Homo sapiens: one gene and its partners. Changing the gene in region 3 together with the main gene of any one other region gives a genetic interaction. Each region holds a gene or a part of one and is shown on either strand. Other genes may lie near its edges. The genes, in order: HDAC2, ING3, KDM6A and ATM.

Region 1 (8,129 bases), on a different chromosome or scaffold from region 3:
TTTCCCTCAGCCCTTTTCTCTCCCGGCCGAGCCGCGGCGGCAGCAGCAGCAGCAGCAGCAGCAGGAGGAGGAGCCCGGTGGCGGCGGTGGCCGGGGAGCCCATGGCGTACAGTCAAGGAGGCGGCAAAAAAAAAGTCTGCTACTACTACGACGGTGAGCGGCCGGGCCGGTGTCGGGGTGGGCGCGCGGGGCCGGGCGCTGGGTTCCGCGGCTGCCGTCGCGAGTGGGCGCCGGGGCTGAGGGGTGGGAAGGAGGAGGGACCGACATTTGGCCGCATCTTAACCCGTTCCCGGCCCGGCACAGTTAGAACGAGACCCTCTTCCTGGCGCAGCCCCCGCGGTTCCTGCGGGCGGGAATCAGGGGGCCCGCCCGTCTTGTCTCCTGCCTCTCCCCCTTCGGCCGTGCAGTCCGCAGCCTCGAAGGTGGCCGCCGCTGGGGACGGCGCCGGCCTACCCCGCCTTGGTGGTGGCGGCGGCGAAGGGGGCGGCCCATTCTCTCCCTTCTCCCGCCCACCATTCGTGGCAACGCAGGTTTGGGGTGCCCCGCGTCGGCCTCCTACCCCCTCGACCCGTCCCCCGCGAGGCAAAATTTCTATCCCGGCCTTGACTCTACACAAAGCCCCGCGGCCGCGAGAGCTCCGCCCCTCCCGTCCCCTTCCCTCCTCCTCGCCTGCTCGCCTCCCCTACCCTGCGTTCGGTCTGGCCGGAGCGTCTTCTCCTTCCTCGGCTTACCCTTTCCCCGGACCCCTCCTCCCGGTGGGCGCTGGAGAGTAGTTACTGAGGGTGGGGGCTCAGGTCGCGTGTGGCTTTATCACACCCATGTTTTGCGTGGGCTCCAACCCTCTCCTTTGTTCGCTGGGTTCTTTGAGCGCGTCTTTCTCAGGATTCAAATGGAAGGGCTTCACTTCCTCAATAATAGTTCGGGTTTTCCAGTTTCAGGCAGAAAGACTTCGTAGGAAATAAGAGGTGGTAGGGAGATGTGGAACTGCTACTGCTTGTGTTGTAGATCAGACTCCATGGGTCCTGGCTTGCCTCAGAGAGGTGGTTACCACCCACTTCTTTGTTGCTCTTTGTTCGATCAGGAAATAGACCCTGCTTTGGGGATTTAGAGAGCATTGGTATCTTGCAAAGGCTGTTCCTAGGTGGTGGGGAATCCTGGTATGGGAAAACTTTGAGAAGTGGGAGAAGTGCAGAAGTACTAAATATTCTAATGAGGTAAATTTGAGGTCACCGTGTAGTGAATTATAAAAGTCAGATAATTTAATTATCTTAAGCATTCTATAATTTGGAGTATGAGCAGTAACATTAAATCTTCGAATCCTGTTTCCTGTGTTTTCTTGCTCAATGGAGTAGTAACCTGTTATACAGATTTCACAAAGGCTTGGTAAATAGTTTATAGTAGGTTACTCTTGAGAGAAGGGATTCCAAAATTTAACAGAGAATCTATCCTAGGCTCCTTCTCCTGAAAGTCCTGTCTGATTTGTAGGAAGCAATACAAATTTTGGAAGCTGTTTCCTACATGTGGTGTATTGTAAATCACAAAATTTTAGAGAAGTAAGACCCCAGAGCACCAGCTCAGAATAAATCTACTTTAACTTGTAAATGACCGTACTGTCTCTTTTTAGTTAAAAAGGATTAATCTTTTAATGACTGATACATATAAAATAACCACCTGTGTCATTTGGGGAAAATCTGAAATCTTACAGAACAAATCTAAATTGATCTGCGATAGCTAGGACAGAATAATAACAGCCCTACTTTTAAAAATGATTTTTCAGAGGACTAGATATGCATTATATAAGTTGATTTGAAATTATGCCATCGTGGAGGGGTGGAGATGGAAATACATTTTAATTTCAACATGATTTACATTGCATATTTTGGGTTATTCTTGCCCTGCATTCCCTGATCAAATTGGAAAGGAAGTAACCCTGCGTATAAGTTAATTTGTAAAATTACATTGTTTCTAAAGTTTAGAGATTTATCCTTGTCAGGGCTTGGAGTAAAGAGGAAAATTTTGGTTAGGGAAAGTGGTACTGAGGTCCTTCTCGAAGCTGTCAGTTGGTGTTGGTAGTGATGGGCTCTGAGGAAGTAAGCTGCTTGTAATTTGTTGTCACCACAATGGAACCCTAGAACCAGGAGGGTACACTTGAGTAGCAGTTTCTGAACAGCGCTCTTGTCCTGGGCCCATTTATGATAACCTTCGTTGTGGGAATGGGAGCAGGCACGGGTACCCGGGAAAGGATGCAAGCTTGATAAGTAGGGTGGAAATATTTGTCTTGTGATTGTGACTTAATATGATACTTTATTGTAGCCCATTCACCTGCTTACGTGATGGCCAGCAACAAGTGAATAGCTGATAGTTTGGAAATCTCTGGTGGGTTATTTTGTCTTTTGTCTGTGACTCGTTTGTTAAAGTGGAGTTCCTAGTTGCTTATGTTTCACATACTCTTTTAATTTTTGTGGGAGGGAATTAAAATATTTTGCAGAGATTATTAATGTTTATATTATGCTAATTATTAATATGTGATAGTGTGCTGACCTCATCCAAAAACTTATATTTTTATTACCAGAGAACATTGTTTTGTCAGCTTACAAAAGTAGCAATACTAATTCTTTTTTTATTGTGAGAAGAGAATGCAAGGAAAGGAGCTTCTGTATCAAAGAATCGTGACTTTAAGGTATATAACATGGATTGGATTGGGAATGGGTTATATCTGTAGTAATAGGGTCTGAATTATCTGCTAGCCTAGGTTAGATGGTTTTAACTTCTTGGTAAAGGAAGTAGAAGGAAGAAAGTGAGTGAAAAAGAAAAGGACGGAAGTAGCAAATTCTATAACCATAGGAATCCTACCTTTAGGCTTCCTGGGGCTGTTAGGCACACGGAGCCTCTTGGCCACACAGAATGTCTGCCACTGAGGCTGTTTGCATCTTAATGAAAGAACTTTTAAATATATACATATTGTTCTCTGCACGTTATGTAATCTTCAGGTAACCCTTTAGGTCACTGAAACGTTGGTCCCAAGGGAACCTTCAGACATTGATGGATTAGGTATCCTTAAACCTTTGAAGAAAAGTAAGAGAAGTTATTACTTCTCTGACTGTAGCTATTGATCCATGCCTCCAAATTCCCAAAAACATACTTCTGAATCATGTTCCTTCTTTATACACTAGAAGATCATCAAGAATCTGTAAAATGATACAGCTAATTAGATAGTCACTAAGATCCCTTCTGGGCCTTAAAACGATGTGATTTTTCTCTACTTAAATATAATTAGCAGCTAAGCTGTGTTAGGCTCTAGTTATACCACTCACATTTTTAATACTGTATCTAGACATGTTTATGCTTTGTTTTGAATTAATCTTGAGGCCAAACATATTTAGTGCTTGTTTTTATGGTGTATACAGTATAATAGGGTTTATATACCTAATTTATGTAACTATACACAAATTTCTCTGTGCTCTATTTTTTCCTCCTCTGAGAGGGATGCATAATCAGTTTTGGAGACAAGTGGTCCAGAAAAAAACACTCAAAGACTGTATACAGATAAAACTATATAAATACAAAAGTTATCAAGATTAGGCCAGGTGTGGTGGCTCATGCCTATAATCTCAGCACTTTGGGAGACTGAGGCAGGCAAATCACCTGAGGTCGGGAGTTTGAGAAGAGCCTGGCCAACATGGCGAAACCCCGTCTCTACTAAAAATACAAAAATTAGCCAGGCGTGGTGGCAGGCACCAGTAGTCCCAGTTACTCGGGAGGCTGAGGCAGGAGAATGGCTTGAACCCAGGAGGTGCAGGTTGCAGTGAGCCAAGATAGTGCCATGGGCAACAAGAGCGAAACTCCGTCTCAAAAAAAAAAGTTACCAAGATGATACCTCCCAACGTACTCCTTCTTCAGCAAATTATAGAAATTCTACTTGGCAGCCAACGATTGTCAGATTTTCTTAGACTTGTATTTATGAGTAGTACCAAAGTCTTTTGCTGAATAACCTTTAATACAACTACATGGGTTCTTAGCTGTGGTATAAATCTTTATTATCCGTGAAATAGGTAATAATTTCTTTGGAGGCAAATAAGTGCTAAATTAATTATAGCAGCAGTTCATAAATACCAGTAATACTAATTGCACAATAAAACATGACTAAATAAGACTGAAATTTTCCTATACTTCTCTTTCCCCAGAAATCTTTTGCCTCTCTTTTCTTTCAAATTTTACCTCATCAGAGATGCTTTCTCCTATTACCTAAGTCCCTGTTATTGCCTTATTTTTCTTCCTTTTGGTTGTACCATATAACTTTTGTCTCTCTCCTCACTATAACATAAGCTTCATTAGGACAGTCTGTCTGTTTTGCTTGTGTTTGTATCTTCGCCAACTACATTTAAAAACGTAGCTTTTTTTTTTAATTAGTGATGAATAAATTATTAATTCCTTATACTTTTTTTTTTTTTTTGAGATGGAATTTTGCTCTTATTGCCCAGGCTGGAGTGCAGTGGCGTGATCCCAGCTCACTGCAACCTCCACTACCCTCCCGGGTTCAAGTGATTCTCTTGCCTCAGCCTCCCAAGTAGTTGAGATTACAGGCACGTGCCACCACCCCTGGCTAATTTTTGTATTTTTTAGTAGAGATGGGGGTTTTACCATGTTGGCCAGGCTGGTCTCGAACTCCTGACCTGGGGTGATCCACCCACCTCAGCCTCCCTAAGTGCTGGGATTACAGGCGTGAGCCACTGTGCCTGGCCAATTCCTTATTCTTATAGATAGAACGCTTTCATATAACGTTCCCTCTAATTCTTGAAACTACTCTGAACTACATTTAGGTAGGATGGGTGGCATTTTGGCATTTTTGGTATTGTTTAGATGAAAACAGATTCACATTTGTTTGGTGCAGTCTACCACTTTTCCTTTTCCACACTGACTGTAGTTTTAATGTTCAAGGAGAGTTCAACATCCGGAATCTTTATTTTTCTTTTTTCCTTTTCAAAGTGTTTCCTCTGCTACCAAACAAACAAAACTCCTTAACAAAAACTTTAAATGCTTCTGTTGACAAGTCCTTAAAGGAAAACACTTGGGATTGGAGAAGGCATCTCTTAGGGAATGTTAATAAATTCAAACTTGGAAGAATTCAAATCAAGTCTAAGGATTTTTTTGTACTGGTTATTAAGCCTTATTCCTCTGTATTTCAGTAGCAGTCTGCTTATTGTTACTTGTTCATTAAGCCAGCTTTGGGTTCAGACATATCAAATAGGCTTAAAGTTCCTACTGTGTGCCAAATAGACAAAAGATTGCTCAAGTCCTAAGAAGGAAATAAAAGACTGCAGGTATAAAGTAAGAGAGGGGGCCGGGTGCAGTGGCTCACGCCTATAATCCCAGCACTTTGGGAAGCCGAGGCGGGCAGATCACAAGGTCAGGAGTTTGAGACCAGCCTGGCCAACATGGCGAAACCCTCTCTCTACTAAAAATACAAAAAAAAGTTAGCTGGGCATGGTGACGGGTGCCTGTAATCCCAGCTACTTGGGAGGCTGAGGCAGGAGAATCGCTTGAACCCGGGAGGCAGAGAGGTTGCAGTGAGCCGAGATCATGCCATTGCACTCCAGCCTGGGTGGGTGGCAAGAGCAAGACTCTGTCTCAAAAAAAAAAACAAAAAAAGTAAAAGAGAGGGGACCTTTGATAGTGTAATCAGAAAAGGGAAGACCTGAAGGAAGAGAATGGGCCAGCCTTAAAAAGAGTTTACTACATAAGATATTACAAATAGCAAAGCCAGATAGTTATTAATAGAACTTGGTGCACTTAATGGGAAGGAAGACAAGGAAAATGTGGAGTCCCATGTTAGGCAGTAAAAAGTGGGACTGCACAAAACTGTGTAGTAAGAAATTTGACTTTACCCAGAGGTGGAAAGCCATTGAAAGTTTCTCAAATAGAATGCATTCTCTCAAAATAATTGGTAAGGAGTTGTGGAATATAGGCTGGAAGCAAGAATTGAACACATATTGGTCCATATAAAATGTAATGGTTGCATTTTAGATAGAAATAGACATATTTAAGAGAGATTTGGGCCTCAAACCAATAGAACTTTTTGATGGATTAGAAATGGAGTTGGAGCTGAGGAATGGTGTTAGAGAATGAAGGATGACTCCTAAGTTTCTGGATTGAGCAGTTAGGTGGTATGTGGTACTACTCACTAAGATTGGGAATACAAATAAAGAGCTCTGTTTTGAACATCTTATATTTGAGATCCTTATTGAATTCAAGTGAAAAGACTGAGAAGAGAGTTAACCTCTGTGAGTTTATAATCCAGAGAGGAGAGTCTAGACATAGAAATTTGGGATTTCTCAGCTTATATCAGGTGAAGTATTGAGACTGAAAAAGATACAGCATAGACAGACGACTGGTCCCAGGACTTAACTCCCGAGAGAAGAGAATTTAGGGCAGAACTATTGTTCACTGATGAACCCAAACCCTTAGAACAGTACCTGCTTGGCACATGGTAGGCTCTTGATTTATTAAATGAATGGCTGAACTGAAAACCCTTGATGTTTAAAGGTTGGTGGAGGAGTGGCCTTGGGGTACAAGTAAAATCCCAAGAAAATGGTATTATGGAAGCCAAGGCTCCGAATGTCTCAAGGAGGAATAACCTCCTTGAAATATGTATTAAAGATGTGTTAATATGTATAAAAAATGGATAGTGGGCTAAGTAGTCTGGAAGATGAAAATAATAAACTTTTTTCTTTTCTCTTGTTTTTTTTTTCCTGAGTCTCTTTTTGCAGTCAACTTATCTTTGTGGCTAAAGGTACATTTCACAGTTCTGAAATCCAAAATGACCTGAAAATTGAAAAAAATTTTGGTAACTCATTTGGAATCAAAATCTTAACCTGAATCAATGTGAGGCTATTTATGATCTTTATTCCTCTGTGAATACCGTGAATATTCACACTTTTTTGCTGTAGAAATATTAATGTTTGATTATATCATGCCACCCAAACTCTAGGCTATTACATAATATATGGCAGGTGTACCATATTATCTCTACAAAATCTGAAAAAGTGTAAAATTTGAAACATATCTAATTTGAAGGAATATGGATAAGAGATTGTGGACCTTAGTAGACACTTCCATTCTGTTAGTTTCTTGAAGAGTGAGCAATTTGTAAAATTTTGCAGATAAATAATTCTTTACAGTAATTTCTTTGCATTGACAATTAAAGTTTGTTGTGTTCAAGGAACCACCTTGAGCTGATTTTTCTGAATGTTTATTTCATTGGTAAAGTATTTTTATGTACAGGTTGAATATCCTTTATCTGAATTCTTGGGACCAGAAGTATTTCAGATTTGGGGAGGTTTTGCAATATTTGTAATTATTTACCAGTTAGCATCCCTAATTCGAAAATCAAAAATTTGACATGCTCCAGTTAGCATTTCCTTGACTATTAAGTTGGTGCTCAAAACAGTTCAGATTTTGGAACATTTTGGATATCAAATTTTTGGATTAGGGATAATCTGTATTTTGATGCAAATCAGTAACATTTAAAATGCCCAAATTATTAATACATTACTGACCATTTAAATGATGAATAAAAATTGTAGGGTCTTAAAACTTCTTAGCCTTTTTATACTTTATGAAAAAGTGGGCTGGGCACAGTGGCTCACATCTGTAATCCCAGCACTTTGGGAGGCTGAGGCGGGCAGATCATCTGAGGTCAGGAGTTTGAGACAAGCCTGGCAAATATGGAGATACCCCGTCACTACTAAAAATACAAAAATTAGCCGGGTATGGTGGTGGGCGCTTGTAATCCCAGCTACTTGGGAGGCTGAGGCAGGAGAATTGCTTGAACCCCAGAGGTGGAGGTTGCAGTGAGCCAAGATCACATCACCGCACTCCAGCCTGGGTGACAAGAGCGAAACTCCATCTCAAAAAGAAAACAAAGTGGATGCCTACAAAGTAGCCATCTAGAGAATTGTGAGATACAGAATTAGTGGGAAAAAGTTGGAGATGGTTATTTTATAACGCCTTTATATTTTAGAAGAATTCTTTTTTTTTTTTTTTTTTGATACAGAGTCTCGCTCTGTCACCCAGGCTGGAGTGCAGTGGCACGATCTCGGCTCACTGCAACCTCCGCCTCCTGGGTTCAA
Region 2 (8,129 bases), on a different chromosome or scaffold from region 3:
ATGACTTAAATTTGCTATGATCATGAGTGTGTTAACAAGTAATGTTGGTAGAATATCCTTTGTCTTTAAAGAGGCTAGAAAAATTATAGGAGTTTAAACTTAAAGCTGTTATGATTTGGGGTTGTAGAATATGATTTGGGATTATAGGGCAAGGAAACTTTGTTTATAGCACTTGTTGACATTAACTGGGAAAAAAAGAAATAATTAGACTCTGTGGTTAGCCCTGTTTTAGGAATCTGTGGCTAATGGAAAATCTCTCAATTGGATCAGTACCCTCTTTACTATTGTAAATCAGTCTTATGAAAGCAGATGTTTGTGGAAGGGTGAGGTAACTTACATCCTTGCTTTGCTTGATGCCTGTGGGGACAACATGGTGATCAGCTAGAAGAGGTGCTGTAACCGTTCAGAATCATGTAGGTTGAGGGAATGCACATGATGGATTTCAGGCAAGTTCACAGCTCTTATTATGGCTGTTTAATATTGTTTAAATATCCTAGTGCTTTATAGCTTAAGTTAATTCTTGTGGTCAATGGGACTTTCCAACTTCTAATTTGATTTAGTACAGCAGTAGTAAATAGAAGAAAAATAATGCTCATTGCCTAATAATTGCTTATAATATTAATCAGGTCATAATCTCTTTTACATATGAGGAAGTAAGAATGATTGGAAGCCGTCTTATAAAGATGCCTACCACAAGTGGTTAAGGCTTTTCTGTCTTTGTTTATTTTAACTATGAATTTGGTTTTTAGAGTTATTAACCCTTTAGGTTCTAGTGCCTTTTCTGAGCTATCTAGTATTGAAAGTCTTGTCATTATTTTTAACATTTTCATATGTAGTGAACTTTATCAATAATATATTTAATAAAATGAAACAATCCTTAAATGCAGAGGTGAAGTGAGTTAGGGCAAGGTGTATGGTATGAAAAAGAAAGGTCTTTATCTCACCCTAACACTACCCCCTCAACCTAACATTCTTGCTCACTGTGCTTTATATACATATTACACGCTACATCATACTTTGTTTTTCTCTAAGCATACTGTTTGTCTTTCTGTCTCTACATTTTTTATTGTGATTCCTTTTTTCCTTCTATTTGAATACAATCCATCTTCACCGTCTTAATTCGTACCTCCTTCGTGTCTACCAGTGTTACTTTTTTATGTACAACTTCTGACTCTTTTTGAACTGTTGCTTATTTGTGACATCTAGACTATATTTTTATCCCTTATTATATTAAAAATCATATATAAATCTTGATTTGTCAGCTAAATTCTAATTCCTATGAAGGCAATGATTCTCTTCCATTCTTCATATATCCTCCATTTAATCCAGCACCAAGCACGTAATAGCTCAATATTTATTATTAGTATAATTGTAGGTACAAAAAGCAATGGAGTGTTTTCGTTGCATTAGTGGTCTTGGAACTTAAATATGAATATTTTTTCTGATTTCCCTTGAGATTAAATTTTGACAATGAAAGAGGTATGCTCAAATAACAGACGTCTGTGTTCACACTATTATTGGAAAGGAAGTTCCATTAAAGGATGCTCAATTACCTGCAGATTCTTTGAATAGGAGCAAGTATCCATAATATGTGATGTTATAGGTTTTTAAATATTCTAGAACTCTGAAAAGTAATGTGTGTGTAAAGGTAGAAGGAAAACTGGCTTTCAGTTTTTGAAAAAATCACAAACCAACACCCTAATGATTGTTGTTAATATATAAAATACAAATAATAGGACAATATTACTAGTTTTTATACTTGAGTTATATTATTCTGAAGAATGTTTTTCAAAAAAAAAACAGTTGTTTTCTGCATGCAGAAAGTTCAGAGGTCAATGTCAGGTAAATGGCAAAGCAGAATTTGTTACAAATAAAGTTAAATTTGGTTTCTGTAATGCATTAGCTATATGACCTTGGGCATATTACTTAAGTAACCCTTCCGAGCCTTAATTTCTTCACCTATAAAGTAGAGACAGTAATAACTTCAAAAGATCAGATCGAGGGCTAGAAAAGATAGGTCATCTGATGCGTCAAGCACATTACCTCCTCTTCATAGGCATCTAACCCATGCACATTGTGTTTTGCTACCTTTCTCCCCTTCTTCCTCATGTTAGTTACACATTATTTAATTCTAAACCTTACTTAAAATGTTGCCCTGGTAGAGTATCATAGCACATGTTGATATCTGTAAGAAAGTTATTTCTAATTCTAGCAGTAATCCAGTGGGAAACTAGACTTAGAAAAGGATGTTATCAATAATGTGACATGAATATTTTTCAAAGAATTTGTGTATTTTTTGGTTTCACTTCAAAGTAATGAGTTTGAAAAAATATTAAAATATTTAATATTAAGTTTAAAAAATACATTAAGACATTTTTTGTTAGTTTGAAGTGTCATATAATTTTCTGAAATTAGTCAAAAGATCTCTCAGTGACAAAATAAAATTTTGCCAAGTTAACTAGGGAAATAGTATTATAAATAAAATAATTTTAACCAGATCCTTTGAGGAATGGAGTTTTCTGGCTAACAATCCCTTTTGTTTCACCTCTTCACATAAATGTTTACAAGCATTATGATTCACTCTCATGCCTTAGAGTAATAGATGTATAGAATATAGGAACTTCTTTGTAGACTGAGGATCTTTCATCATTCTAAATAATAGCTTTTATCGTATGACAGTGTGGATGATGGCCTTATAAGCAGGAGGAGATTAGGCTCTAAGTAATCACAGGGCATATTATGAAAAGTGACCAGCCTCCACCATCCCCTCCTCCCATTCTCTAATCCCTAATCAGTTTTGCTTTAATTTTCATGTCCTGACTTCTGAAAATGGAGTATAGAACATTTCCTAACAAGTTGAGAGTCTGGGTCTTAGAACTTAAAATTTATTGAAGGAGACTTGGGAGATTATTTAGCCTAACACCCTCATTTTATAGATTAAAAACCTCTGAGGCATAGATTAATTGACTTGCTCAAGGATACTAAGCAGATTCACTAAAAGAAACAAAAATTTAGGTTTCCTCATTAAGCTGACACTTTAACAGTGTCCCAAATTTTGGTGGTTATCTTTGATCTTCTTTGAAACAGGTAGATCGACACTTGAGAAAGCTGGATCAGGAACTGGCTAAGTTTAAAATGGAGCTGGAAGCTGATAATGCTGGAATTACAGAAATATTAGAGAGGCGTAAGTAAAATTTACAGTTTTCCATCAATATTGGACAGTACATGTGCAAATCGCTGAGAAGACCTTGTCCCACAGAGGCTTTTGAAATCCTGCCCTTCAATGGATGGTGGCATCCAGGCCAGATAGCTTGGACCCTAACAGTTGGAAATGTTTGGGTCATGCATACTGAGAGAGATAATATAGGATATCATCCACTCACTCTTTATGAAACAACATATTAAATCATTTTATATCCACATATACTAGTAAGTTGAGTGGTAAGAACAAATTTAAAGAAATGTAACCATCGGGAGACAAATTAACCATCTTGCATTAAGTGTGTTGACTTTACTCTGCCTCTTTATACACTTAAGCTTTGAGGAAAGTTGTTAGTTTCTCTTCTTAAGAATTACTTTATGGCTTTTCCTTAACTGCATATACTGAAAAAGACTCACATTGGTTTCATAACACTACCTCTTTTTCTTAAAGAAGTGTTTTCTTCTTTCCCTTAGCAGCAAGAAACCATTTTGATATTTCTTTGCAAGGCTCTATTTGATCTCCTGCTATAACTTACCCCTGTCACTTCTTTGGTGTGACTTCCCAAAAATGGAAGCATGAGCACTGTTTCCTTAACTAATTTAGCATTTCTTCAACCTAAATAGGTAATGTACATAAAAGCAGTTAGTGTGGTACTAGGTGTAGAGTAGGCACTCACTAGATGTTAATTGAACCAAATTAATATTATGGCTAATTTCTACTAGAATTTAATTAAAACTTACAAACCTTCTTTTTCTTGGTGCATTTCAACAGTAAGAATATGTACCTGTTTCTACACACAGATGAAAGATTTCTTTACAGTGCCAATCTATGTATCTCTCTACTCACTAGAAGTCAGCTAGGGAAGCCAATCACAGATCTGTCTTGGTATCCATAGTTGCATTTTTGTGTTCAAAAGTAGATCCATCACTTTAGATAATCATCCTATTTATTTGTGATACTTTTCTTCTGGAGGAACCCTATATAAAGATAATAAGTATTTTGAGACAAAATTAAAAATTCTGTATCTGCTTTGATTTTTTAAAAATGCTGATGATAGCTGTGAGTAATGATAATTCATGCCTATTCAGTACTGCAGGAAGGTTAATAAAGCATCCTCTCTAAGGACACAGACATATGAAACAAAATTGGATCAAGTTATAAAAACTGCTCCACCCTGTGCCCTGCCATAATTTCATCTCAAGGGATCAAAAATAAACCCAGAAAAATGTATTTAGAGGTATTTTAAAGCTTGGTGTTAGAGATTCTATTCCTCACTTTTTGCGAACAAAATCCCTAACTTCTTTTAGGAAGTCTTTATTATCATAATGTCATTTTAATGATCAAATAATTTTTTTCATATAGTAATGTCCCCCATCACGTAGAACTTCAGAATCTCCCATTAAAAGGTCTTCAACTCAGTAAAACTAGGTTGACTCTTACCAGTAATGAGATTACAATGTCCATTCATCCATTTATATGGCACCCACTATGGTGAATTCCCTAATTAGACACGAGTATGCCTTGAGCCATTTTGTACTTAAGATTAATATTGGGAAAAGGATAACTTATTGTTTAGAGAGAGGATAACTCAGTGTGGGATGGACAGTGGTGATCCTCTAACATGTCTGGCTAAAATAAATACAGGCATATGCATCAGAACTTGCTAGTCCTCTGCTGGGTAAGGGAACTCATTGCCTGTAGTTGAGTGACATGTGAAGTTCTGCGGTGACATTTAATGGTGGTGTATCTCTGTGCCTCTCTTCTTTTAGGATCTTTGGAATTAGACACTCCTTCACAGCCAGTGAACAATCACCATGCTCATTCACATACTCCAGTGGAAAGTAAGTTTGGTGTAGTGCAGCTAAGTTTTAAAAACAATGAAAACCTTATTATATCACCTATATGTTCTCTTTTTTTAACTCTACACAACCAATTGAGAAATAAATCCCTTCTTTTTTTTTCATTGCAAGTACTGGCAGACTTGTCTTTTTCCTTGGGGGGAGCATATGTGATTCGGAAATGAGTATTCTGTTTTCTCTTAAATGCGTAGAAGGAGAATGTATAGTACTAATAGCATATATTCCCTTCATACACATACCTGATTCTCCTTAGGGAGCTTTTCAACTGAGCATTCTCCTTAGGGAGCTTTTCAACTGAGCCAAACAATAAGCTATTTTGTAATAGGCCCTTTGTCTTTTTCATCCTTGCTTCTCCAGTGCTTAACCTAATGTTTGGCATATAATTAAGTCTGAATGGTTGGTAAGTCAGTGAGTGGATGAATTGTTAGTTAGATGACTGGCTGGCTGGTTGGTAACAGTCAAAAAATGACTATATCAGTACATCTTTTGACACATCAATTTGGTGGGAAACTATTTTAAGTGGTAGATTGTGTTTTGAAAACAAAATTTCCCTCACATTGTATGTGAGCCCATGGTGTATCTTGGGTTATCTTTAGTACTTTGCTAGAAGTTTTTTAAATGGTGGAGAAGTCTACTCTTAATAAACATGTGACACAGAGTTCTGCTTGTCCTGCCTTCTGAGGAAACATCATGTTCTGTATTTTATGAGGAACCCAGATCATACTGTTTCACATTTTAACTGGATATAAGTATTATGCCTTGTCCATAGTTCTCTAAAGTTTAAAAACACATGAATTTTTTATTTATATTTAGAAAGGAAATATAATCCAACTTCTCACCATACGACAACAGATCATATTCCTGAAAAGAAATTTAAATCTGAAGCTCTTCTATCCACCCTTACGTCAGATGCCTCTAAGGAAAATACACTAGGTAAGTTAATTTTCTTAAATATGATTGCTTTGTTTGTTTGTGTTAGAGTAAGGGGAAATAAAGTGTTTCAGGATTAATGAATCATACAGTTTCTTTACCTGGTTAAAGTATACATATGGAGAAAGAAGAAAAAGGAAAACCAAATACATTATTCAGTTGACTTAATGTACAAGTGACATTAAAAATTTTAATGATTATATGTCTGTGCTGGGAAATAATGTAATTTAGACTCACTAACATTATGTTCTCTGCAACCATTTTTATTTCTTTTTTACATCTACACAGGTTGTCGAAATAATAATTCCACAGCCTCTTCTAACAATGCCTACAATGTGAATTCCTCCCAACCTCTGGGATCCTATAACATTGGCTCGTTATCTTCAGGAACTGGTGCAGGGGCAATTACCATGGCAGCTGCTCAAGCAGTTCAGGCTACAGCTCAGGTAAAAAGTAAAGGGTTTAGAGACAAAATGTTACATTTTGTCGGAATCATTGGAAACCTAATAGAAATAACGGGATGTGAACAAATAGTTTTCTAACGTTGTATATTTTCATTTTTAAGTCATGATTTCACGATATGTGATATTTTATTTAATGAAATAATACATAGGAATTGCCTGATTGATAATGAAAACTAAAAAATAGGTTTATCATGCGGATTACATGCAGACCCTTCTCACAATAACTGCTCATGTTGCCCATGTTCTTGACTGCAGTCCACAGCACATGCTAGCATAGTTCTTCGTTCTTTCTGCCAGTTCCAAGGCTTCCCCTGTAGCCTTGGACTTAGGTCATCTTGAGTTTGTTCACTTCTGTATAGTTTGCCTATATTCCAAATTAAGAAGCTGCCCATCCCATAGTTTATATTCTAACTGTGTAAAATCTTATTTTAAATCTTTAAATGAAAAAGGTTAGGCCAGGCATGGTGACTCACACCTGTAATCCCAGCTCTTTGATAGGCCGAGGCAGGTGGATCACTTGAGGTCAGGAGTTCAAAACCAGCCTGGTCAACATGGTGAAACTCCATTTCTACTAAAAATACAAAAAAATTAGCTGGGTGCCTGGTGGGTGCCTGTAATCCCAGCTACTCGGTAGGCTATGGCAGGAGAATTGCTTGAACCTGAGAGGTGGAGGTTGCAGCGAGCCAAAATCGTGCCACTAGACTCCAGCCCAAGCGACAGATTGAAACTCCACCTCAAAAAAAAAAAAAAAAAAAAGCTTAAATTCCAGTGATGAAAATAATAGTTTAAACAATATAAATTAACATTTGATAAACCAAAATAAAACTATAATTTGTAAAACTTGAAAAAGAAAATCTACATATTTACATATATTGATGCTATCAATGAATGTCTATTTAAGATGAAGGAGGGACGAAGAACATCAAGTTTAAAAGCCAGTTATGAAGCATTTAAGAATAATGACTTTCAGTTGGGAAAAGAATTTTCAATGGCCAGGGAAACAGTTGGCTATTCATCATCTTCGGCACTTATGACAACATTAACACAGAATGCCAGTTCATCAGCAGCCGACTCACGGAGTGGTCGAAAGAGCAAGTAAGTTTTATTGTTACAGTAGCCCTATACCTTTACTGAACACTTGGTCTACTTGACACTTCAGCCAGGCCTCTCTATGTTAAAGGCAGGATATAACGGATTAAAATTAACCTTGCAGAGGTAGGGAGACATGCGGTTTTCATTTTATAGTGCCATACTTTGAAGGTGTCAAGTCTTTAAAAAGTGTTAGAGTTGTTTTTAATTTTTCTAGAGTCATAAATTGAGTTTGTTAATACATGACTTCTTTTTATCTTCTTTTATTCATTAAGATAAATCATTTTATGGAACTGCTTTTCATTTATTACCCTTTATTTTGCCATGTGTTTCAAGGTAAATTAATGCAATGCAAATTATATCCTGGTGATTTTTTTTTTTTAAACAAGATTTTTCATTTTGATTAACAGCAAGCAAGGCGTCTTCATTCTTAGTCTTGGGTCCCAAAAACTGATGGTGTAAAAATATCCCTAGATTTTGTATATGAGACTTGGGATGACTGTATAAGCTTTAAATATGAAAACCTAATAGCATTTATCACTGTCTATCCCAGGTAACTGAATATGCTGGGTGTTTATACATAAT
Region 3 (8,129 bases):
AAAATACTTAGAAGTTATAGATTGTATATCACTTAAAAATGTATGTGCTTTTTTCCGTAGGACATATTAGCATTAAAACAGTTGGTGTTTTAAATTTTTTTGATAATAGAAGTAGTTTAAGATCCATTGAAACATATTTTCTTAAATTTGGTTTGCTGGCGTGTTTGGTAGGGGAAATTATTAGGTCAGTTCTAGAGGTGGCTTTTTTAAATTGTAATATTTGGATGTTGATTAAAAACATTCTCATTTATGTGTGTTTTTTGTTTGCTGGCACTTAAAGGCATACAGGTTGAGTATCCTTTATCCAAAATGCTTGGAACCAGATGTGTTTTGGATTTGGGATTTTTTTGGGTTTCAGAATATTTGCAGAATACATACCAGTTGAGCATCCCTAATCTGAAAATCTGAATTCCAAAATGCTCCAATGAGCATTTCCTTTGAGTGTCATGTTGGTACCCAAAAAGTTTTAGATTTTGGATTTTCAGATTAGGGATGCTCAACCTGTAAATTCATTTCCAGTGCTAAAGATGGCTAGTGTTTTGGTTAGAAAAGTCATGAGAGCCTGTCTCAAAAAACAAAAACAAACAAAAAAAGAAAGTAGCCATGGAAATAATGTCATGCTTTGTGTTTTAAAGAGTTTTCTAGTTTGGAAGATTGTCTTCTGAACACTTGCAGTCTTAATTTTTTACGTGGACAAAGTCTTATATACTTGGTATTTCCTAAAGTTTTGATTTGTGCCTGGTAATAAAGATATACTAAGATTATAGAACATATTTGCATATTTGGTCACAAATTAGAACTGCAGCAATACATAAACAGGCACTTTTAAAGTTCTGGTTTTCTTTTTCAGTAAATAGTTCTTTCTGTCGAATCAATTACAAATTGAAATAACTAGAGAGCATTTGACTGCCACCTCTAGATACTTTTTGTTTTTTTTTTTAATTTGAGACAGTCTCACACTATCCCCCAGGCTGGAGTGCAGTAGAGTGATCTCGGCTCACTGCAACCTCGGTCTTCCAGGTTCAAGTGATTCTTATGCCTCAGCCTCTTGCGTAGCTGGGATTACAGGTGCCTGCCACCACACCCGGCTAATTTTTGTGTTTTTATTAGAGGTGGGGTTTCACCGTGTTGGCCAGACTGGTCTCAAACTCCTGACCTCACGTGATCAGCCCACCATGGCCTCCTAAAGTGCTGGCTTTGCAGGTGTGAGCCGCCGCACCTGGCCAATATCTTAAGCTGTTAAGAAAAACTGCCTGAGAGATGAATTTTTGTGACTTAGGTGAAGTGATAGGTCATGCACTTTAAACCAAAATGAAAGTTCATTGCTTGGCTAGCTGCAGAGTAAGTCTTTTTCTGACTTAAATTATGTAACATTTAGTTTTTGTTTACATAGTACCAATATTCTGCATCTTTGAAAGGATTTCTGTTAAGTTTATTTTTACTTTGAAATTCATTGTGATGCGTTGAACTCTTTGAAATTGATGTTAATGACTGCTAACACTGCATTATTAATAATATTTTTGAAATGTGTTATCTAGAGAGCTAATTTATGTTAAGAAAACACTACCAGCTTGTCTAAGAATTGAAATGGTGGTTAGGCTGTTTAGGACTCACATGTATTATTTGTAGATTAGTTAATTAATAAAGTTTATTTAATGAATGCATAATTGACAGTCTTAAGTACTCATATTGAAACTTCACATATAATTTTATCAGTTTTCCACATTGGTTTGTAAATTATCGTGACAGTAAATTAAAACAGTATATTAATGTACACTATGTGCAAGCCTTCTATGTAGATAGTATGAAGATAGCATAGATATTTCTTGCCCGTGTTGAACTTAAATTCTTTAAGAGGGGTGAGATAAGTTTAAGGGTGACTAACACAGGACCATCTTTGGGAGAAGAAAAATGTGAAATATTCTGAAAGTTTATGAGAAAGGTAAATTTAACAATTCACAAGTTAGAATGGCTCTTAAAGATGGGGATTGTTTGTTGATTGTGTTTCTTGGAGATGGTATTTCTTGATTTAGATGTTAGCAAGGCATCTTATAATTTTGTTTAGGAAAACATGATTTAAAAATCACATTTTAAGGCTGGGTGTGGTGGCTCACACCTGTAGTCCCAGCACTTTGGGAGGCTGAGGTGGGCGGATCACTTGAGGTCAGGAGTTTGAGACCAGCCTGACCAATATGGTGAAACCACGTCTCTACTAAAAATATAAAAATTAGCCGGGCGTGGTGGCGTGCACCTGTAGTCCCAGCTACTTGGGAGGCTGAGACAGGAGAATTGCTTGAACCTGGGAGGCAGAGGTTGCAGTGAGCTGAGATGGTGCCACTGCACTCCAGCCTGGGCGACAGAGCGAGACTTCATCTCAAAAAAAAAAAAAAAAAATCACATTTTAGCTTTTAGCAGATGTTCAAAGGATGATCTGCTGTGTGTTCTGTCCTTCTTTGATTTCATTTTGTAGTAATATTTACCTTGTTATGAGTTCTTAACTTGAGATTCTTAAATGAGTGTTCATGGGTCAATTTAAATTCTCTGACAGAGTTTGGAAGGACACTCAGGATGACTTAATGGTCATCTTGGAGTACAAGACACTTTTGGGGTGAGAAGGAGGGGAGATTTTAAACTGTTTTATAGATTTCTGTACTGCTTTTTTTTTTTTTTTTAACACCGTAGACATATATTACCTTAAAAATAATACAATAAGGCCAGGCGTGGTGGCTCGTGCCTGTAATCCCAGCACTTTGGGAGACTGAGGCGGATGGATCAACTGAGGTCAGGAGTTCGAGACCAGCCTGGCCAAAGTGGCAAAACCTCATCTCCACTAAAAACACAAAAAATTAGCCAGGCGTGGTGGTGGGCGCCTGTAATCCCAGCTACTTGGGAGGCTGAGGCAGGAGAATTGTTTGAACCAAGGAGGCGGAGGTTGCAGTGAGCCGAGATCGCGCCACTGCACTCCAGCCTGGGCAACAGAGCATGTCTCCATCTCAAACAAACAAACAAAAAAAAGTACTCTGATAGTACACCAGAATGTTATATTTTGGTTGACTAAAAATGGGTTTAAACTACCATGTCTATAGTTAGAAGAGATACTTGTAAAGGCCTTTCTTGCATTTTAATTACAGTCTGAAGTTGGGATACTTTTGAACTTGATGTTCCTTCAGTGAGGGTAGGAGTGAATGGAGTAGAGATGTACCCAATTAGGTCCTATTTCTTTGTGTTTTAGATGGCTTTGTGACAGTCACTGCGCTCATTCTTCATTTTGATCTTTAGCATTTCATTGCTGACTTTATTTTGAGTCTGATTTGGCACAGGCTGATACTTGGGACCTGATTAAGAACTGTAACCTGGGCCGGGCGCGGTGGCGCATGCCTGTAATCCCAGCACTTTGGGAGGCCGAGGCGGGCATCACGAGGTCAGGAGCTCGAGACCAGCCTGGCTAACATGGTGAAACCCCGTCTCTACTAAAAATACAAAAATTATCTGGGTGTGATGGCGCGTACCTGTAATCCCAGCTACTCGAGAGGCTGAGGCAGGAGAATATTGCTTGAACCCAGGAGATGGAGATTGCAGTGAGCCGAGATCGTGCCACTGAACTCCAGCCTGGCGACAGAGCAAGACACCATCTCAAAAACAAAAAACAACAAAAAAACTGTCACCTGGAAGGGTGGGAGTAATCCCTTGTTAGACAGTTTTAGGTTTCTGAGCTAATTTGTAGACTGCTTGCAACTTTCTTCTATAAGCTTTTATTATTTTTTCTCTTACCTATTTCTTCCTTATATTCCATCATTTGTTTACTTCTGTATATTATTAAAACTGTTGGTGGTGTTCCATTGTGAATGTATTCTTGTATGCTTTTTGTAATTTTCTCTGTGGTACTATTTTGTCTTTTTTTTTTTTTTGAGATGGCATTTCACTTTTGTTGCCCAGGCTGCAGTGCAATGTCGCAATCTCGACTCACTGCAACCTCCGTCTCCAGGGTTCGAGCGATTCTCCTTCCTCAGCCTCCTGAGTAGCTGACATTACAGGTGTGCACCACCACGCCTAGCTAATTTTTGTATTATTAGTAGAGATGGGGTTTCACTGTGTTCGCCAGGCTGGTCTCCAACTCCTGACCTCAGTTGATCCCCCCGCGTCGGCCTCCTGAAGTGCTGGGATTACAAGCGTGAGCCACCATGCCTGGCTGAGTATTTTGCCTTTGTTAGAATAAATAGAAGATGCTGCTGCTAAGTTTATTCTCAGGAAGAAAGTTGGGGTTATACTTAAGGGTATTATATAAGGTCATCTAATTCATTTTAGTTTAGAACAGTGGAAGAAATTGTTTTAGACAAAGGGTTATTTTTAAACTACAAATTTATTACGTGTTCATTAGATTTTTCTCTCTTTTTGAAAAAAAAGTTTATTAGGAAAAATTTTCAGTGTTTTCAGAAAGTATTGCAAATCAACCATCACCCAGCTTTAATAGTTTGCAACTCATGACCAGTCCTGTTTCATCTATATATATTTTGCCCCTCACTCATGTTATTTTGAAGCACATCTCAGCAATCAGTCACAGCATTTAATCCATAGATGTTTGTTTCTGAAACATAACCGTGATGCCCTTATTACATGTAAAATAATTTCTTAATCTCAAATATCTGTGGACCTTGTTTTTTGCTGTATGGAAGTTAAGAAATAATTGCTTGGAAAATGAGTAGAAAACATGTTTAGCTGAGTATGTGATGTGAATTTTGTTTGTATTTTGATACTGCTATAGTGTTCTGTGATAGAATATTACATAATATGTGACACAAGAGGTAATTTTTCCTGAGAACTTTATGAATCATAGTTGCTTGAGTCTGGATAGTTTTTATTTTTAGGGAAAATTTGTTTTCAAGATACAGTAGTTAAATAAATATTTTAGGTTTCTGAATTTCAAATATCAGAATGAGAACTACAAAAGCTTTTGCTTTGCTTGATTGATTGGTGAAACATTTGTTGAGCTGCTGTGGGTGAGGGATTGTGTCAGGTTCTGGGGCAACCAATAAGACCTGGCCTCTGTCCTGCAGTCAGTCTGTTGGGAGAGGCTGACAGACTGAGTGATCATATGATGTATTAAGTGTAATAATAAAGATACATGCAAAGTGCTGTGAGCTCTGAAATGATGGAGTAATTAAAACATTTAAAACTTTTTATTATGCATCATTTAAAGTATGTACAGGTATTGAAGGTAGTTTAATGAACTCCTGTTTTCAACGGTTCTCCACATTTTGGAGCAGTTAAGTTTTTTTTTTTTTTTGAGGCAGGGTCTCACTATGTCAGCTGTCACCCAGGCTGAGTGCAGCGATGCTATCTCGGCTCACTGCAACCTCTGCCTCCCAGGCTCAAGCAATTCTCCTGTCTCAGCCTCTTGAGTAGCTGGGACTATAAGCGTGAACCACCAAGCCTGGCTACTTTTTTGTATTTTTTTGTAGAGACAGGGTTTCATTATGTTGCCCAGACTGGTCTCTAACTCCTGGGCTCAAGGTATCTGCCCGTGTCAGCCTCCATAGGTCCTGGGATTACAGGTGTGAGCCACTGTGCTGGCTGGAGCAGTTAGTTTGTTTTTTGAGACAGAGTCTCGCTCTGTCGTCCAGGCTGGAGTGCAGTGGTGTGATCTTGGCTCACTGCAACCTCCACCTCCCAGGTTCAAGTGATCCTCCTGCTTCAGCCTCCCGAATAGCTAGGATTACAAGCGTGCGCCACCATGCCTAGCTAATTTTTTTGATTTTTAGTAGAGATGGGGTTTCACCATGTTGGCCAGGCTGGTCTTGAACTCTTGGCCTCAAGTGATCCTCCCGTCTTTGTCTCCCAAAGTTCTGGGATTACAAGCGTGAGCCACCCCGCCTGGCCTGGAGCAGTTAGTTTTGACTGGAGAAGTGACTGAGGGAAACTGCACAAAGATTCAGCATTTAGCCTTGGTTATGAAACATGTAGAAATTTACCAGACATGTAGATGTAGCAAGAGGAAAAAGAGGGTAAAGAGTTAGAAGTATAAACTGAGCGTGGAGGCTCACGCCTGTTGTAATCCCAGCACTTTGGGAGGCCGAGGCTGGTGGATCACCTGAGGTCGGGAGTTCGAGACCAGCCTGACCAACATGGATAAACCCCATCTCTACTAAAAATACAAAATTAACCGGGTGTGGTGGCGCATGCCTGTAATTCCAGCTACTTGGGAGGCTGAGGCAGGAGAATAGCTTGAACCCGGGAGGTGGAGGTTGTGGTGAGCCGAGATTGCACCACTGCACTCCAGCTTGGGCAACAAGAGTGAAACTCTATCTCAAAAAAAAAAAAAAAAAAAAAAAAAAGAGTTAGAGGTATAAAGTTAAATGGTGTTTGAGGAATTGTGAATAGTCAGGTATGGGTAGAGGGTAGCATGTTTCAGTGGGATTGGGAAAAGATAACTGAACATGTGAGAAGCCCCATCACTATAGGCCGTAGGATGTTTTGGGGCATTGTTAAACTGAACTCTCTAATCAGGTGAAGTGACATGACCAGAAGTAGGTTTTATGGGAATATTACTGGCCACTGTGAGAAGGATATGGTGTAAGGGAAAGGAACTTCAGTACCGATGGGTAGATAGCAATGCATGAATTTTAGGATAGAATTCTGTTCCTACCACTTACTAGATGTGTGATCCTTGGGCAAGCAAGCATCTTTCAGAGCCTCAGTTTTCTTATCTGTAAAGTAGAAGTAGTAATACATTTCCCGCAGACTATTGCATTTTGTGTTAGGGGAAAAAATGTAAAGTGTGTGGCATTGGGCTTGGTGCATGAAAGGTGCTCAGTATAAGATAATATCTTGGATAATGGTAACGTCTTGGAAGAGACGAGTTTAAACTAAGGCTGTGGTTTAGGAATGGGGTGAGATGGAGGCAGACTTAAGAGCTCTTGAAAAAGGCCTTTTCTTGGCTTTCATAACATCCTTGCTACTTTGACTTTGTATCTGACAACATCTCAGTCTTTGCAAGGATGCTGTGTTTTAGGTCCTCTTTACTCACCCTGTTCCCAATTTACATACATGTTTGACTGCCTACTTGACTACCTTGGTATCTTGAAGGTATCTCAAACTGAACATATGCAAACTGAATTTATAATTGTCTTTAATATTCCTTGTCTTAGTAAATGTCACTTACCACTACCCATGCCAGAAACCTTGGAATAGTTGTTGACATCTCTTTTTCTCAATTCCTAATCACCCGACCTCATCATTTCTATTTTTTTTTTTTTTTTGAGACAAAGTCTCACTTTGTTACCCATGCTGAGTGCATTGGCATGATCACTGCTCACTACAGCCTGACCTCCCAGGCTCAAGTGGATCCTCCCACTCCAGCTACGTGGGACTATAGGCATGTGCCAGCACGTGCAGCTAATTTTTTTTTTTTTTTGTAGAGATGAGGTCCTTCTTTGTTGCCCAGGCTGGTCTTGAACTCTGGAACACAAGTGATCTTCTGGCCTTGGCCTCCAAAGTGCTGGGATTACAGGCATGAGCCGTTGTGCCTGGCCTACATTTCAAATCTCAAATCCGTTTCCCTCCATCCCCACTGCCCCCATCCTAATTGCAGCCATGATATTGTCTTTGACTTTTGAAATACCTTCATGCAATTTTTTGAATATAGGTATACTTGCACATAGTACAAAATTGAAAAGTGACAGAAAGGATGGTACAGTGAAAATCACCCTCTGTGCTTGCTTTGGCAGTACATATACTAAAATTGGAACAATACAGAGAAGAGTAGTATAGCCAAATATTAAAAAAAAAAAATTCTGGCTGGGCGTGGTGGCTCACGCCTGTGATCCCAGCACTTTCAGGGGCCAAGGCGGGCAGATCACATGGTCAGGAGTTCGAGACCAGCCTGGCCAACATAGTGAAACCCCGTCTCTACTAAAAATACAAAAAAAATTAGCCGGGCATGGTGGCGGGCGCCTGTAGTCCTGGCTACTTGGGAGGCTGAGGCAGGAGAATCGCTTGAACCCAGAGGCAGAGTTGCAGTGAGCTGAGATCACACCACTGCATTCCAGCCTGGGTGACAGAGTCAGACTCTGTCTCAAAAAAAAAATTCCTACGTCATCTCTCACTTACTTAGTTCTTTTTTTCAGAGGCAG
Region 4 (5,452 bases), on a different chromosome or scaffold from region 3:
ATTGTTGTATACCTAGTGTTTTTGTTTTGTTTTCTTTTTTTTCTTTTTATGTTTTTTTGAGACCAAGTCTCGCTCTGTTGCCCAGGCTGGAGTGTCATGGTATAATCTCAGCTCACTGCAGTCTCCACCTCCCAGGTTCAAGCGATTCTCCTGCCTCAGCCTCCCGAGTAGCTGGGATTATAGGTGCCCCGACAATGCCTGGCTAATTTTTCTACTTTTAATAGAGACGGGGTTTCGCCTTGTTGGTCAGCCTGGCCTCGAACTCCTGACCTCAGGTGATCCACCCGCTTCAGCCTCCCAAAGTGCTGGGATTGCAGGCGTTAGCCACCATGCCCGGCCCCCAATGTTTTCTCTTCTGGTGACTGATAATTATGTTTAGTAAACATTCAGTGGATAGTGGATGTCAGTTAATTTGTAAAAGGTGTTCAGAAGGAATTGCTTCTTATAATGGTGAGAGGGAAATGATCCAGGGATTTTGGAAGATGAAATAGTATAGTTACTCAGGATGCTGTAGATCTAAATTCTTTCCTTTTATCAAGATATAAGTTGATTAGCCCTAGAGAATTGTGCTTTTATTAAACATTTTCCAAAATAGTCACTGTAAAAATTCAAGTTTAAAAAATTCAGCTTAAAAGTGCTTTTCTCTTTATAACTTTTTCCCTGGCCCACCCAGATAAAATTGTTTCCTCATGTTTTTGCACAGCATGTTACACTCCATTCGGTTTTAGCACTGCATTGCATTACTGTCATTTTATCTCTGCCTTGCTACTAGATAAAAGAAGTGGAAGAGTTGTGTAAGGGCAGCCTTGAGTCTGGCAGGATGACAAAGTAAAGTGTTTTGGGTCCTCAGTTTCCTCATTTCTAAAGTCAGGGATTTGTATTCGATGGTCTCTAAAGCCCCTTTTAGCCCTGCTATTTTGAATTACTATTATTATTATACGAGGGAAGAAAGAGGATATAAATGACTAAGGTCACTCTACCTTTATGCAAAAATAAAATTTGGAATATGTTTTGGAAGTAGAAAAGAGAAGGAAATTTTAGAGTCAGAAGAAAATAATAATAGTTTTTTCAAAATGACATAGCAGAAGACATACATATTAATGTGGCTTAGGAGGAAAATAAAGGAACAAAAGTCTTTTCTGCTTTCATTCATAAGTACATTGGCAGTACTTACTGCCAGAAATCAAGAAATTTTTCCTCTGAATGAAAGATTATCCTGCTGAAAAGAGTACAGAATTCTTTAAGAAACAGTGAATAGAATGGTAGTAACCAGAGGCAGGGAAGGGTGTTGTGGAGGGAGAGGATGAAGAGGGGCTGGTTAATGAGTGAAAAAACACAGGTAAATAGAAGAAATAAGATCTAGTGTTTGATAGCACAATAGGGCAACTGTAGTTAACAGTAATTTACTGTATATTTTTAAATAGCTACAAAAGAAGATTTGGAATGTTTCCAACACAAATGATAAATGTTTGAGATCATGGATATCTCAATTACCCAAATTTGATCATTACACATTGTATGCTTGTATCAAAATATCACACGTACCTCATAAATATGTACAACTATTATGTATCCATAAAAATTAAAAATAAATTTTAAAAAGAAACACCTAAAGAATAATCTGGCTGTTTCTTTGGTAGAGAAATAGGAAGAAGAGAAGCAGAGGGAAGGTTGGATGAACTGGTGCACAAATGCTTATGCTCTCAGATTACATTCCATTCATATACATCAACCAAAACATTAAATAATAACAAACTAAATGCAGAAGCAGAGATAAGAATTCATCTCGTTCTGTTAATCCAGACATTAAAGAGATTTGCAAAAATGCAAAACAGTGCCATGCTCACTAAGTTTTGTTTTGTTTTGGGAAGTATACAGTTGAAATTCTTTATCTACAGGTTTCCATCTATGGATTCAACCAACCGCAGATCAAAAATATTTGAAAAAAAAATTTTAAAGAATAGGGTATAACACTTATTTACATAGCATTTACATTATAGTAGGTATAATATGTAATTAGAGATTTATGTATAACCTGTGCACATTCTCCTATTACACGTAATCTAGAGGTTATGTGTAATACTTTTTGGAAATGTTTAATAAAAGCACAATCTAGAGGTTACGTGTAATAGGAAAATGCCCTGCCATTTTAAATAAGGGACTTTGAACATCAGCATTATCAAGGTGTCTTGGAACCAATTTTCTGCAGATACAGAGAAACTACTGTAGTTATTTTTCCTAAAAATTGTTATTTATGATATATAGTAGATTTATTATTTTTGAATAAATTAATACATTTTAGATTTTTCTCAGTCTTTCTAATATGATATCATATCTAATATCAGTAGATATGGTCCAACGATCGAAAGTTCTTTGGGGTCTTCAATAATTTGTTTGATTGTAAAGGAGTTCCGCAAAAAGTTTGAGACCTGCTGTGGTAGGGTCATTTAGAGAGGAATTGAAGTTTTGGTTCCTAGCATTTTTGTTACTGTTCCTTCCCTATCAAGCAACTAAAAGAGCTTTCATTTCTTAGTCATCACTTTGTCATCTTACTCTCCCTGCTTCCTCTTTCTTATTTCTTTCAATAAATGTCCCTGAAGGATTGGGTAGTATTTCATAGTTCAGTTATTTGGGAAGGATACTATTCATATAAACTAATTGTGCAATATGCCTTTTCTGTTCCTTTAATAATGTTGGTAAATGAAACCTTTGCCAGATGCCAGCTTTTCCTTCACTGGATTGTGATTTTTTTGACAGCTATAATTATGCATCAAGTCATCCCCAGTAGGGGGTCCCTCATTTCCTTGCTGACATGTCCTCATTACTACAGGCAGTATTGAAGCAGGACTAAAGATGGAGGCATTCTTTATGATAGGTCTGATGAATATGTTCTTGTTTCAGAAGAGTATTTAGAAGGGCTGCTTTTTGTAATGTCAGAGTATTAAAAATTTTTTTTGATGTTTGTCATCTGTGACCTCTCTGCTAATAACTCTTAAGAGCTCTGACCGCATAGCATTTTGTAGTTTTCTAAATTTTGATCCATATGTAGGATTATTTACAAGTTCTAGTCTTGTCACTACAAAAGTTCCTTTGTATTATTATAATATTATATCGTAAGTTCCAGAACTTACATAGTTTTTTTTTTTTTTTTTTTCATTTCTCTTGCTTACATGAACTCTATGTCGTGGCATTCAGATCAGTCACACATAGACAACTCTCTGAAGTATATATTAAGTGGCAGAAACACTCCCAGCTTCTCAAGGACAGTGATTTTAGTTTTCAGGAGCCTATCATGGCTCTACGCACAGTCATTTTGGAGATCCTGATGGAAAAGGAAATGGACAACTCACAAAGAGAATGTATTAAGGACATTCTCACCAAACACCTTGTAGAACTCTCTATACTGGCCAGAACTTTCAAGAACACTCAGGTAAATACAATTTAAAACTATGTCATCTTACCTCTTGACTTTCCTTTTATTATTTAAAAAACAGAAAGCCTGAGGGAAAAAGAAATGTCATTAAGAGATAGAGATCTCTATTAATATATAGTAAAAATAATTGTTTAAGAGTTCCCATTTTGGAATTAGATCTGACTTTTAAGCCTTGGGCAAGGGTACTTAATCTTTTCTCAACCTCAATTTCCTGGTTATAAAATGAGAAGATACGTAACTTACTATATTGATAACAATTCAGTGATTTTATATACTGTGTGTATGTACACACAGATACACATACATACATATAGAGAGAGACAGACAGACAGACAGATAGGCAGACGTGGGGTGGGGAGATGTCATGCAGACAGAGAGGTCCTTAAGATAGTCCCTGACAAGTAGTTAAGTCCTCAATGAATGGTAGTTGCTGCTTTCATTATTATTATTATTCATGGTAGTAGTATCAGTAGTAAAAGTATTTATTCCCATATGTCATTTTCATTTCAGCTCCCTGAAAGGGCAATATTTCAAATTAAACAGTACAATTCAGTTAGCTGTGGAGTCTCTGAGTGGCAGCTGGAAGAAGCACAAGTATTCTGGGCAAAAAAGGAGCAGAGTCTTGCCCTGAGTATTCTCAAGCAAATGATCAAGAAGTTGGATGCCAGCTGTGCAGCGGTTTGTTTTTTTTATTGGCTGGATTAGTGTTTTACTGTTATTTAAAAAAACACAAATGTACTTTAAAATATTTTTAATAACAATTTTATTAGAGCCTTGAAATTAGTAATTTATTAACAAGATATTGTAAAACTAGTCTTGAAAATTAATTTGTAAATGAAGTTTAGAAACTTTTTCCTATATATCACAATTCTATCAGTCCATCATGTGGTCGATTCATTTAATATATCCCAGTATTAAGCCTTTAACTTCCTATAGAATTCAAGAAAGGTATGTGGGAAATGAATGAAATAGCTACTCTAAATTTGAAATGACAAGTGAAAAAAGGGAAGAGGAAATGAATGAGAGAACTAAATTAGAAAATAAAAGCAAGTTGGGACAATTAGGTTGTCAATCCAAATGCTTTGAAAATATCACATCTAATATTTTATCTAACATTACCTGTTGGTTTTTGCAAACTTATGTTGCTACTTCAGCTGTAAACCCAGCATACACACTGGATAAAGTAGAGGCATTGGTGTCCCCAAGGTTTGTCTACAGTGGTGTCCCACAGACATGTACCTGCTTAGTGAATATCAGCTCACTGTGCTTTATTATTTATTTATTTATTTATTTTTTGAGACGGAGTCTTGCTCTGTCACCCAGGCTGGAGTGCAGTGGTACGACATCGGCTCACCGCAACCTCCACCTCCCTGGTTCAAGCAATTCCCCTGCCTCAGCCTCCCTTGTAGCTGGGATTACAGGCACATGCCACCATGCCCAGCTAATTTTTTTGTATTTTTAGTAGAGATGGGGTTTCACCATGTTGGCAAGACTGGTCTCGAACTCCTGAGCTCAGGCAATCTACCCGCCTTGTCCTCTGAAAGTGCTGGGATTACAGGCGTGAGCCACCACGCCCGGCCTTTACTGTACTTTTTGATGTTGGGCACTCATTGTATAGCATCTTCTGTTATTAGAGAAATCATTATACCAAAGCACTGAGTGCCAATATGATATGTGTAAATATTGCTTAATAGTATTGGCCCTGAAGTATGTGCTGTCTGGAGTTACCCAACTTCCTTGTACCTCAGTTTTCTAATCTGCAAATTGGGGTAATAATAGTACTTATTTAATAGGATTCTTGTGAGAATTAAATGAGTTAATATATATAAAGCCTTTACAAAGTGTCTGACATATATAAGTACTCAATAAATGTGACTTGCTCCAATAATGGCAATAATAATAATAAACAGAGGATGATCATTTCCTACATGGGATTATTAAAATAGTTGTATGGCAAAAGCAGATGAGGAAAAACTTTTTTTTTCCCACCCACCAAGGAAAAACATTTTTAACCTGCTT

Evidence for each region.
Region 1: changes in KDM6A (region 3) and HDAC2 together harm fitness more than expected from each alone (negative genetic interaction), as found in Homo sapiens cells (one large-scale study listed by BioGRID).
Region 2: changes in KDM6A (region 3) and ING3 together harm fitness more than expected from each alone (negative genetic interaction), as found in Homo sapiens cells (one large-scale study listed by BioGRID).
Region 4: changes in KDM6A (region 3) and ATM together harm fitness more than expected from each alone (negative genetic interaction), as found in Homo sapiens cells (one large-scale study listed by BioGRID).

What each region holds. Positions count from the first base shown.
Region 1 is NC_000006.12:113,962,881-113,971,009, reverse strand, and holds part of HDAC2 (histone deacetylase 2), read left to right. Parts: 5' UTR 1-101; coding exon 102-153; intron 154-280; exon of another isoform or gene 281-530; intron 531-731; exon of another isoform or gene 732-1,309; intron 1,310-2,350; exon of another isoform or gene 2,351-2,376; intron 2,377-8,129. UniProt on the Homo sapiens protein: Histone deacetylase that catalyzes the deacetylation of lysine residues on the N-terminal part of the core histones (H2A, H2B, H3 and H4).
Region 2 is NC_000007.14:120,961,655-120,969,783, forward strand, and holds part of ING3 (inhibitor of growth protein 3), read left to right. Parts: intron 1-3,087; coding exon 3,088-3,184; intron 3,185-3,601; exon of another isoform or gene 3,602-3,817; intron 3,818-4,048; exon of another isoform or gene 4,049-4,179; intron 4,180-4,971; coding exon 4,972-5,043; intron 5,044-5,874; coding exon 5,875-5,994; intron 5,995-6,279; coding exon 6,280-6,437; intron 6,438-7,356; coding exon 7,357-7,550; intron 7,551-8,129. UniProt on the Homo sapiens protein: Component of the NuA4 histone acetyltransferase (HAT) complex which is involved in transcriptional activation of select genes principally by acetylation of nucleosomal histones H4 and H2A.
Region 3 is NC_000023.11:44,877,797-44,885,925, forward strand, and holds part of KDM6A (lysine-specific demethylase 6A), read left to right. Parts: intron 1-8,129. UniProt on the Homo sapiens protein: Histone demethylase that specifically demethylates 'Lys-27' of histone H3, thereby playing a central role in histone code. Demethylates trimethylated and dimethylated but not monomethylated H3 'Lys-27'.
Region 4 is NC_000011.10:108,322,115-108,327,566, forward strand, and holds part of ATM (serine-protein kinase ATM), read left to right. Parts: intron 1-3,195; coding exon 3,196-3,430; intron 3,431-3,943; coding exon 3,944-4,111; intron 4,112-5,452.